2 separate regions of the Homo sapiens genome follow, and region 1 is linked to region 2. Evidence: fine-mapped expression QTL. A gene starts in region 2. The other region holds a variant in brackets. All regions are shown on one strand. Distances are between the middles of the regions. Region 1 overlaps KAZN (kazrin, periplakin interacting protein). Region 2 holds the start of KAZN (kazrin, periplakin interacting protein).

What was found. PIP is the estimated chance that this variant, and not a neighbour inherited with it, causes the effect.
Region 1: its variant is fine-mapped to the expression of KAZN in whole blood (INTERVAL, PIP above 0.99).

Annotation. Positions count from the first base shown.
Region 1 is chr1:14,869,815-14,875,190 of GRCh38, reverse strand. The region is part of intron 1 of KAZN (kazrin, periplakin interacting protein); the gene reads right to left. Among named protein-coding and RNA genes, the nearest start is that of KAZN, 270 kb to the right of the region's middle. The variant T/C (reference allele first, on the strand shown) is at 2,043.
Region 2 is chr1:14,595,718-14,601,093 of GRCh38, reverse strand. It overlaps KAZN (kazrin, periplakin interacting protein), which reads right to left and starts at 2,409. Exons shown (of 15, transcript NM_201628.3): 1 at 1,871-2,409. The coding sequence starts at 2,096. RefSeq lists a silencer at 1,583-1,742.

The DNA of each region.
Region 1 (5,376 bases), 270 kb before region 2:
CCGGGATAATTTTGTATTTTTAGTAGAGACGGGGTTTCTCCATGTTGGTCAGGCTGGTCTTGAACTCCCAATCTCAGGTGATCTGCTTGCCTCAGCCTCCCAAAGTGCTGGGATTACAGGTGTGAGCCACCGCACCTGGCCACAAATTTACAGATATATCTGAGACCTTTCCTCATTTGGCTTTAACATGGAGGAATCTCCAGGGACCCCCACTTGCAGAGGTAGGTGGCTGCGCAAATCTGCTCTTCCAGAAAGGAAGGGAGATTTGGCAAAGCATCAGTTTGGCAAATGGAAATACAAAACCAAGTAAGTCTAGGATCCCAGAGTTAGTTTTTTTTCCTCTCATTTTCTTCCTTTCCTTTCCCTTCTCAAACCTTAAAAGGGGAAACATTCGACCAAGAGCATTATGGGTAATCCAGAGAAGGATAATCAAACCAGAAGATGTCAAGATTCTCATCTTATAGCAAACACAGGTCACACCAGGATTTCTGGGCTGGATCCAAAAAGTTGGGTGAATGGAGAAGGAGATTGGTTTTGACAGCTTTTGGTTCTGGCACACGGAGTGTCAGGCAACAGTTGCTTAATTGCTGTCACAGGTGACAAGATGGTGCAGTTACCTGCAGTAGTTAAGTTAGCTGCAGTAGTTAAGTTAGCCTTCCATCCATCTGTCCATCCATCCATCCATCCATCCATCCATCCATCCATCCATCCATCCATCCAGTCAGCCAGCTAGCTAGCGATTCATGCCACCATTCCTCTGAAACAACTCAAGGTCACCAATGACATTATTAAATCCAGTGGTCACCTTTCCAGCCCCTCTTACTTAATCTGTCAGCAGCATCTAACAGTTGAACACTCTCTTCCGGACACATGTCACTTCTCTACTGGTTTCTTCCTACCTCACCAGCTGTTCCTTTTCAGTAGCCTTTGTTGGATCCTCTTCCCCCTTCCGACCTCCAAATGTTGGAGGACTCCAGAGCTCAATCCTTGGATTCTCTATCTGTACTCACTTGTCTGGTATCGTGGCTTTAAATATCATCTGTATATGCTGATGATTCCCAAATGGATATGACCAGCCCTGTCCTCTCCCTTGAAATTTGGACAGTCAACTCTCAGATGATTAATAGACATCTCTAACCTAGCATACTCCAAACTGAGCTCCTGATTTCCTCCTGGCCCACCCCCTCTAAACTCGCTCCTGCCCCTGTCTTCTCTATTTCAAGAAATGACAAGTGCTTTCCTTCCAGTTACTCAAGGGTGCATCTCTGGAATCATTCTGGACTTCTCCTTTTTCTCCTACCCACCACATCCACCACGTCAGTTCTGCTGGCTCTACCTTTGAACTAGATACTGAATCTCGCCACTTTGCCCCACTTTGCACTGCTCTCTCCCTGGTCCCAGCCACCACAAACTCATGCCTAGATGATTGCAGTAGCTTCCTTATTTGTCTCCGGCACCTGCCTTTCCTCCCTAGAGTCTATTTTCAACACAACATAAATATATGTCAGATCCAATCCCTCCTCTTCTCAAAGCCCACCACTGGCTTCTCATTTCACTGAGAGGAAAGCAAAGTCTTCCAAAAGCCTGAAAGGCCCCTGGCTCCCTCTGACCTCCTCTCCTTTTACATTTCCTCTCCTCCCACACTCTGGTTTAGCCATGCTAGCCTTCTTCTGTTCTCTCTGCTTTTCCCTCAGATCTCTGCATAGCTCACTTCCTCCCTTCCCTCAAGGCTTTCTCAAATGCTGCTTTACCAAAGAGACCACCCTATGTGAAACAGCAGCCCCATTATTCTGCATCCCTCTTCCCCACTTTATTTTCCTTCATAGTGCTTACTGCTACTAGAAATTCTTTATGCTATTTGTTTTCTTCTTGAACATCTGACTCTCCCCTTTAGAATACAGTCTTTCTGAAAGCAGGAGCTTTGTCTGTGTTATTATTCTATCCCTAACTACTTGAATAATGCCTAGTGCATAGCAGGTGACAGAAGGAATGAATGGATGAATCCATCCACCCATCCATTCATCTATCTGTCCATCCATCCA[T/C]CCTTCCATCCATCCATCCATCCACCCATCCATTCATCTATCTGTCCATCCATCCATCCTTCCATCCATCCATCCATCCACCCATCCATCCATCCACCCACCGATTCATCTATCTATCCACCCACCCATCCATCCATCCATCCATCCATGTATCCTTCTATATGTTCTTCTACTCATCTTTCCATCCATCCATCCATCCATCCATCCATCTATCCATCCATCCATCCATCCACCCAACCATCCATTTATCCATATATCCATTCACCCATCCATCCACCCATCTATTCATCTATGTATCCGTCTGTACATCCATCCATTTGTCCTTCCACCCATCCATCTGTACGTCCATCCATCCATCCACCTATCCATTCATCTGTCCACTTGTCCATCCATCCATCGAACCATCCATCCATGCAATAATTTCTTACTGGGATTCTGTATAGGTTCATGAGAGATCCATTATATTAATCCTTCAAATGTGAAGGGAGATGTCCAGAAATAAGACCATTTTAAGGATTTCAGGCCCCACTTAGATCAGTGGTTACAATAATTATGAGCATGAGCAAGACTTATTCACACAGTACCTGGCTTCATCATTGGAGCTTTCAATTAAGGGATGCAATGAATATTCCCTTATAGCACTTCACAGTTTACAAAGCAAACTGTAATGATCCAATTGAATAATCTAAAACTGCACTGTACAATATGGTTGCTGTTAGCCATATGTGGCTGTTTGAATTTAAATTCATTGAAATTAAATAAAATAAAAAATTCAGTTCCTTAGTCACACTAGCTATATGTTAATTGCTTAATATCCACATGTGGCCAGTGGCTACCATATTAAATAGAAAGTTCTAGGAAGTTCTATCAGACAGCACTGCTCCATAACCACCCTAAAGTAGTAGTTTATTATATCCCATTTTGCAGACAAGAAAACAAACCCAGAGAAGTCCCCCAGTCAGTATGAAGCAGAGGCTAGTCTTGAAATCTAGTCTTCTGACTCCAAGTCCATTATTCCTTCCAAAGAAGGGTAATTTAAGGGACTGGTGCCCACACGCTTGCACCCTAATTCAGCTTCTGATACAGGAGTGCAGGAATTTAGATGTTTATCTGCCAGCAATAGCCTCTTGCCTTGCTGTCTGCGCATATTCATGCCCCCTTCTTCTGGTAGCTCCCAGATGATTAACAGACATCTCCAGCCTAGCATGCTCCAGACTGAGCTCCTGATTTCCTCCTGGCCCACCCCCTCTAAACACCCCCATTCTCCCGGGTCACCTTTCTCTCCCCTACTCTGAGTCCATGACACTGAGACTCACGTGGGGCTGACCCCACTCTGATTCCAAGGGTCAGCATGTGAGCCTGTGACTCAGATCTGGTCAATCAGGATACTATGCCTTCAGGCCTTGGTGAATGAATGCAGTCAAAGAATTAACACCACACAGCATCAAGACACAGAGATGCAGGTGCACACACACACACACACACACACACACACACACTGCTGCTCATGTAGATGTCTCAGGCTCACTGCAGGTGATATTTTTAGTTCAGGCTGTGGGAGTTGGGGGTCAGATGCACAGAAAGCATCTTCCTTACGCCTCCCCTGTTGCAGATGCACTGATAATAATGGTGTGGCACGCCCTATGGAGATAATAATTTGTGTTTGTAAAATCCCAGACCAGAGCGACTTGTACACTTTTCCCCAGTTTCCCATTCCTATTCGAAGAGGAAGCCCATCCTCCAGCTCCCTTGCTGCAGGGCAATTTGTATGCAAAAGGAAACCAGAGCTTTACCAGGAAGCAAACCTCCCTCTTGACTCTTGTTCCTCAAGCAGAAGGTTCATGGAAGGAATTGGGGAAGAGGCTGTGGAACATTCTAGAAGAGAGCTGATTGGGCAATTCCCCAAACCTAGGAAGGAGAGGTCTGCAGGACAACTGTGCCTGGACTGTTCCAGCATCGTGAGGAGGTGCAGGACTAAAGAGGGCACATAGGTGCCGTGTGGTGGTGGAGGGTCTGGACCTTGAACACTGGAGCTTCTGACTTCACTGAAGACACACCTGGGCTCAGGCAACAGCACTGTCCACCTCTTGGAGATCAGGTGGGCCTGGACAAAGAACAGGTGAGCTGAGACCATGGAGGATGGAAGCCTCCAGGCCCCTTCCTCATTCTCCAGATATCAGACAAGCCTTCTGGGTTATTGTGTGACCCCAGGCAGGTGTGGAGGCGGCCATTCATATGATGAGTCTTAATTTCTTATCATTCTGGTAGGGTTGGGCCTGGTGAGATTTCTTGCACACTTGGTTGTGGAGTAAGATTCATATATGTAATAATGAGAACAGTGTGGCCACAGTGACACATAGTGCCACACAACCTTCACAACAAATGCCCCCGATTGAGAGCTGACCATGGGCCATTAATTGTGCCAGATGTGAAGCTCCTCATCTCATGAAGCATCACAGCAGCTCATGAGGGAGTCACGGTCGTGAACCCCATTTAACAGATGAGGAAAACCGGGCCTGGGGGCTCACACCTGTAATCCCAGCACTTTGGGAAGCCAAGGTGGGCAGATCACTTGAGGTCAGGAGTTTGAGAGTAGCCTGGCCAACATGGAGAAACCGCGTCTCTACTAAAAATACAAAAATTAGCCAGTGTGGTAGTGCATGCCTGTAATCCCAGCTACTTGGAGGCTGAGGTGGGAGAATCACTCGTACCCAGGAGGTGGAGGTTGCAATGAGCCAAGATTGTGCCATTGCACTCCAGCCTGGGCGACAGAGCAAAACTCTGTCTCAATACAAACACACAAAAAACAAAAAACAGTTGAGGAAACAGGGCCAGAGAAGTTAAGCCATTTGTTCAAAGTCACACAGCAAGTGAGGAGCAGAGCTGGGACTCACCCTTCACCCTGTCTTAACTCCAAAGCCTGTGGTCTTTTGGTTTTGAGTAGAAGGGTCTGATTTTTCCCAGTATCCAGGCCCTAGACTCCATGTTCAAGGAATCTCCCCAGCAGTCGTCTGAAGGTCAAAGCCAAGGTCAAGGCCAGGCCCAGTGCTCCTGGACAGATACTGGGATTTTCCACAGAGATGAGACCCTGAGTTTTTCATCTCATTGGGGAAAAATCTGGACATTCTACCTTCCATGTGATTTTTCTTACCTCTCTGTCATTTTTCCCCGGATACCTTGGGATTAATGGCAAAGTAATGCCGGGGTGGGTGTTGGGTGGCTTCAGGAAGGAAGGGGCTGAGGGCAGGAGACCGGTACAACCCAGCAGCCACCACATGGAACAAGGCTTTTAATAACACTGGATTTTTCCAGCAGGTCTGTGCGCTAATTAAAC
Region 2 (5,376 bases):
TTATGTGTTTTTAAGGATATCCAAGAGATCCAAAAGCCATTTTCATTTCCACAGCCCTGTGCATTTGTGTAGGAAAAAAGAACAAGGAATCAGCCCCCTGTTGCTCCACTACAACAATTTAACCATCCGCGAGTATGTCAGTTTTCAAGTTGAGCATGTGGACATCATTACTGCGTTGACTGCCTTAGCCTGCCCAGTCTACAACCAGACCCAGGACTCAGATAAAAAGCCACTTAACTTTTCCTTCGCGGAGAAAGGGGCAGACAGTGGGAAATAAACGAGCATTGTTCAGTGTCCTTTACTATACAGCTTTTGATTCTTAGCAAAATGCCAGTTCTTAGCTATTTCTTTAATGTTAGCAGAGCCTCTGCCTATAAAAAGTGAAGCATTACCTTGCAGTCTGTCTTTTTTTTTTTTTTTTTTTTTTGCACAGGTTCCAGTGGAGAATGTTCTTTCGCACACAATGACATTGCAAGGATGACAAGAATAACCACATGTCAAGCTTGCAGCAAGCACTAGGACCACAACACCTTCTCACCATTACGTCATGGCTACTTCCTTACCAAAGTACTCCCCCCAATTCCTAAGACTTCCAACAGGCTCCGGGAGTACCAAGTTAAGATCTGACTTGGAATTCGACATAAAACTGCACGTGGGCAGGCTTCACATCTCACCTCAAAGAAAGCACACCTTCCCAGGAAGATAAGGTGGAAACAGAGACTGATGGAGAGAACCAGATTCTTAGGAAAACAGACTCTCTCAACCCTCAAGAGAAGCTCTTGAAATGACAACAGAACCAGAAAATCATTTTGAGCCACTGAGCAATTGGTACCTTGCACTTCAAGTGACATATTTAGACAAGTGGACCTCATGGACTGGAGATTTGTTTCTGTCCTGTTCTGGATTTCAGCAGTTTAATTTGCAATTCAAATGATATTAATAACCAGTGATACTGTTTCTTAAAGGGCAATTAGGCAAAAAGAAAAAAAAAATCCCCCAAAGCCTGCTTACCCTTTTACTTTCTAAGTCACAGAAACCAAACAGTACATTTTAGGGAATGCCCCATCCGCCTTTATGTCTTGCAGGGGGTTTCAGAGCTTAATCTCTGTCAATGTGAACACAAACCAACTGTCTTTTTCTTCCTCTTCTCTAAACCGCAGAGTCCCTTCAAACGGGCTCCCTGCAGCCCACCACCCTAAGCCTTCATTTCTCTACCGCTCAACCTTTGAGGTCTACAGTATCCCCCTGGAAAGTGCTCTCGGTGTTTATATTTGCGGAAATTTAAACTCCCTGCTGAGCTGAGCATCTACTGTTGCATCTATAGATTCCAATGCCTGAGAGACCTCAAATGAGAAGAAAATAAAGTCCAGATGCAACTGAGCCAAGGGATTTGGCATCCGCGGAGAAAAGTGCACAGCAGTGCAATCCTCTATCCCAACCACGGCGGCAGAGCCCGGAGCTCTCTCTGGGAAGGAGCCTAAGGAAGTGGGGGGAACTGTGCCATTCACCCCTGCGGGGGGTGGGGAAAAGGCCCCGGCATGAAAAGTTTGCACGGAGCTAGGGGGCTGGTGCCACGGAAAGGGCACTTTCTGATGCCGGAAGGGACCCGCCGGCTGCGCCTCGCTCAGGCTGGCCGGGGCCGGTGTGACCGTGTGACCCCGTGCACACTGCGCTCGGGTTTTCGTGAATGACAGCAGCCTGCAACTCCCAGCCGGAGAGCAGCGGTGGCCACCGCCGGGCGGAAAGGGTTACAAGCCAGAATGCAAAGCGATTTCGCCCCGGGTGTGGGGGACCCCGGGTCCCCGGCCACCTCCGAGGCCGGGCGTGCTCTGCTCGCCTTCCTCCGCCCTGGGCGCCGGGGCGATCCTACCTTGCGCTCCAAGCTGGGGGTTCTCCATGTTCGTCGCCGCCGAGTCCCCCGCCGCCGAGGCGCTGGCCGCGGCTCCCGGGCCCGGGCCGGGGCCGCCGCCGCCGCTCAGTTCCGCCAGTCTCCGGTTGGTGGCCGTGAGTTCGGCTCGCAGGTTGGTCACCTCCTGGCTGGCCGACTGGACCGCCCCATCGATGCGGAGCGCGAGCTGCTTATTGTCTTCCATCATGCTCAGGATTTTGGCCTGGGGGCGAGAGAGGTGACAAAGAGCTGCATGATGCGCGGGGGGCGCGCGGCCGGGCACCCCCGGCTCTACCTGTTGTGTCCTCCGCGGCCCGGCTTCGCCCGCGCCCCGACCCCCAGGCACCGGCAGCGCCGGTTCCTCCGGCACAGGAATGACAGCGGCGCCTCCAGCCCTAGCCGCGGCGGTGGCGAGGCGGCGGGGGGAGGAGGCGGAGGAGAAAAAAGAGGAGGAGAAGGAGGAGGAGGAGCAGCGATCGCCGAGACCCCGGCGGGCGGGCGCCGAGAGCTGCTCCAAGAAGGACACCGCGCGCCACCAGGCACTCTTTAAATGGAGCCTACCATTCGCCGCCGGCTCGGGAGGGGGTCTCGGTCGGAGGCTGGGGGCACCCTTGGCCTCCCGCGCCCCCGTACTTCGGAGACACACCCCCCGGGGGGGCGGAGGCGGCGGACGGCAGTCGGGAGGGGGCCAAGGTGGCGCCCCTGGCGAGGGGCAGGGGTCGCCTGGACCGAGGCCGGCCCTCTGTCCCCTCCCTTGAGCGGTGGGGCAGCCCCCGCCCTGGAGAACTGGTGCCCCGAGCCGTGCTAAGGTTGGGGAGGTGCTGGGTGCTCGGAAGAGAGGGTGCTTGGAAAGGGGGCCTCAGAGGGGAGCCGGGGTGGATCTCCATGGAAGGGAGACGCTTGCGCCAGCTCAGGAGTGGAGTTCGTGCTCCACCGGTTCCTTAAACTGCGAGTACGAAATCCCCAGAGGGGAGCTGAGCTGGTGCCCCGCGTGCCTCTCACTCTCCACCCCCCACCCGCAGGCCAGACCTGCGCTGCCCACCCCAGGAGGGAGCGCCTATCTTCCTCGGCGTGGGCCGCTGGTGCTCCCGCCTCTCCACAGCCCTAGCCCTGTGTGTGCATCCAGGTGGAGGAGCAGCCTTAGCCAGCTCCTAAGCTTCTTAGCCGGGCTGAATATTGGCGGGGACAGAGATGAGGTTGAGAGATAAGAAGGAAGGCGTCGATGGGGCTTCTTCCCTTTCTTCTACTGGGAGCAGAAGAGTTGAGCCCTGCTGCCTCAGTTTACCCATCCCCTCTTCACAGAAGAACTGAGGTAACCTGACGTTGATATGCCCTCTCCAGCTCCTCTTTCTCTCCCAGACCACAGGCTTTGCATTTTTCACTGGGGCCCTGGATTCCAGCCACCAGACCTTGTTACCATAGCAAACTTCATTCCATGCAAATAGGACAATTTAAAACAGCCAGCAACCCTCTGGTCAACAGGGCGCCATCATTCCAGCTCAGTCAACCTCCGGAGAGCAGCAAAGAGCAGATTGCAGAAGCCAGTGGGGTGCTGCGAGGAAAAATGAGGCTGCCCACCCTTCAGGTTCTTACAGGAAGCCCATAAGAACCAAGCAAAAACTGCGTGTAGAGTGCTTTTATATGCATTCTTATCTCTTGTGAGTGAGGATTATTATTCCCATTTTAGGGATAAGGAAACTGAGGCTCTGCATAGGGTTAAGCAATTTACTTAAGGGGCCCGCAGAAACCAGGTGACAGCGGGACTGGAAGAAAGTAATCATCTGATTGCAAGTTCCTCCTGCTGCGCCTTCAGGAGGCCTTGGATGATAGATTTCTCCCCCCTTTTCTGTGGAACCATAAAAACAGTCTTGCTCCATTCCCCTGTGACCACTAACAAGCTTTTGCAAGAGGGCAGGATTTGATGGTGGAGCATGTGGCAGGAAGACACAATTCTTCACTCTGTCCGCTCTGCTCAGCTAATGGGTCAGTTCGGGGATCGAACCCTGACCTTAACCTCATTAACACAAGTTCTTACCAACTGGACCAACCAAGGCACTTAGAACTGCTTAGTGTATCTGCAAACCAGGATTCAGTTCTTTGCAGTCTTTCAGTTACGTTATGGGGAGAGCATCAAAACTACAGAGCTGTGTGGGTCTTGAAAAGGGGGATGCCGTGGTGCAGCCATTGTGGAAAACATATTAGCAGTTCCTTGAACAGTTAAACATAGGATTACCATACGACCCAGCAAATCCACTCCTAGGTATATGTCCAAAACAAATATCCAAACAAAAATTTGTACATGAATGTTCATAGCAGCACTGTTCATTAGTAGCCAGAAGGCAGAAATAACCCAAATGTCCATCAACAGATGATTGGATGAACAAATTGCAGTATGCAATGGAATATTACTCAGCCGTGAAGAGTACTGATACATGCTACTACTACGTGGATGAAGCTCCAAAACATTATGTTAGTTGAAAGAAGCCCGACATAGAAGGTCACATATTATACGATTCAATTTATATGAAATATCCAGAATAAATAAATCCATGAAACAGGAAGCAGATTGGTGTTTGTCAGGGGCTGTGGGGAGGGAAGAATGAGAAGTAACTGCTTAATAGGTGCCGGGTGTTACTTTGTGCTGACTGATGAAAATGTTTTAGAACTAGACAGAGGTGGTGGTGGCACAACACGGTGAATGTACTAAGTGCCATTGAATTGTTCACTTTAAAGGGCTTAATTTCATGTTATGTAAATTTTACCTCAATCAAAAAGTCATATATGCAAATACACAAATAGAGAGGATGGGAATGTTTTGGAACTAGGGCTTCTGAGCAAACAGTTAAGAGTAGCTCTATTTAGAGGGCCGTGTGTGTGTGTGTGTGTGTGTGTGTGTGCGCACACGTGTGCGTGCACTCACACCTCTGGTATAGCACTCAGCAGAAGAAACAGTAATTTATCTGTTTATATGTCTCTCTCCCACTTCACTGGGAACTTGTGGGTGGGGGAAGGAGGGTTATCCGGCTTTTTATGTCATTCATCTTTGCGTCCTTGCCGCCCTAGCCCGTAGTAAGTGTTCTGTAAATGAATGCGTGTGAGTGTGTTTGTGTAGTAAACAAAGTGACCCAGTGTTACTCATTTTGCTCTTCAGTGAGATTATTCCCACACACCGGAATCTTCAAATCAAATCAAAACAAAAAAATCTAATAAGGAGAAAAGAAAAGACTCATTCCTTGAGCCCCTTCTCATCCCTCTATTTTTGAGGTTTCAAGAAGCTGCTTTAGAAACTCCTGGGGTGCCTCCTAGGATTTTAAGAATTTTATTTTTTGAGAGTTTTTTTTCCTAACATGAAAAAAAGGGGCTTTTTCCAGTTGTGTGTCCTTATGTTCACCCACACACCAAAGGACTAGATCTTAGATAGAAAGTCTGCAATCAATTAGCCTCTGCGGGTATACTTGATTTAAACCAAAAAGGTCTACCTTTCTTTT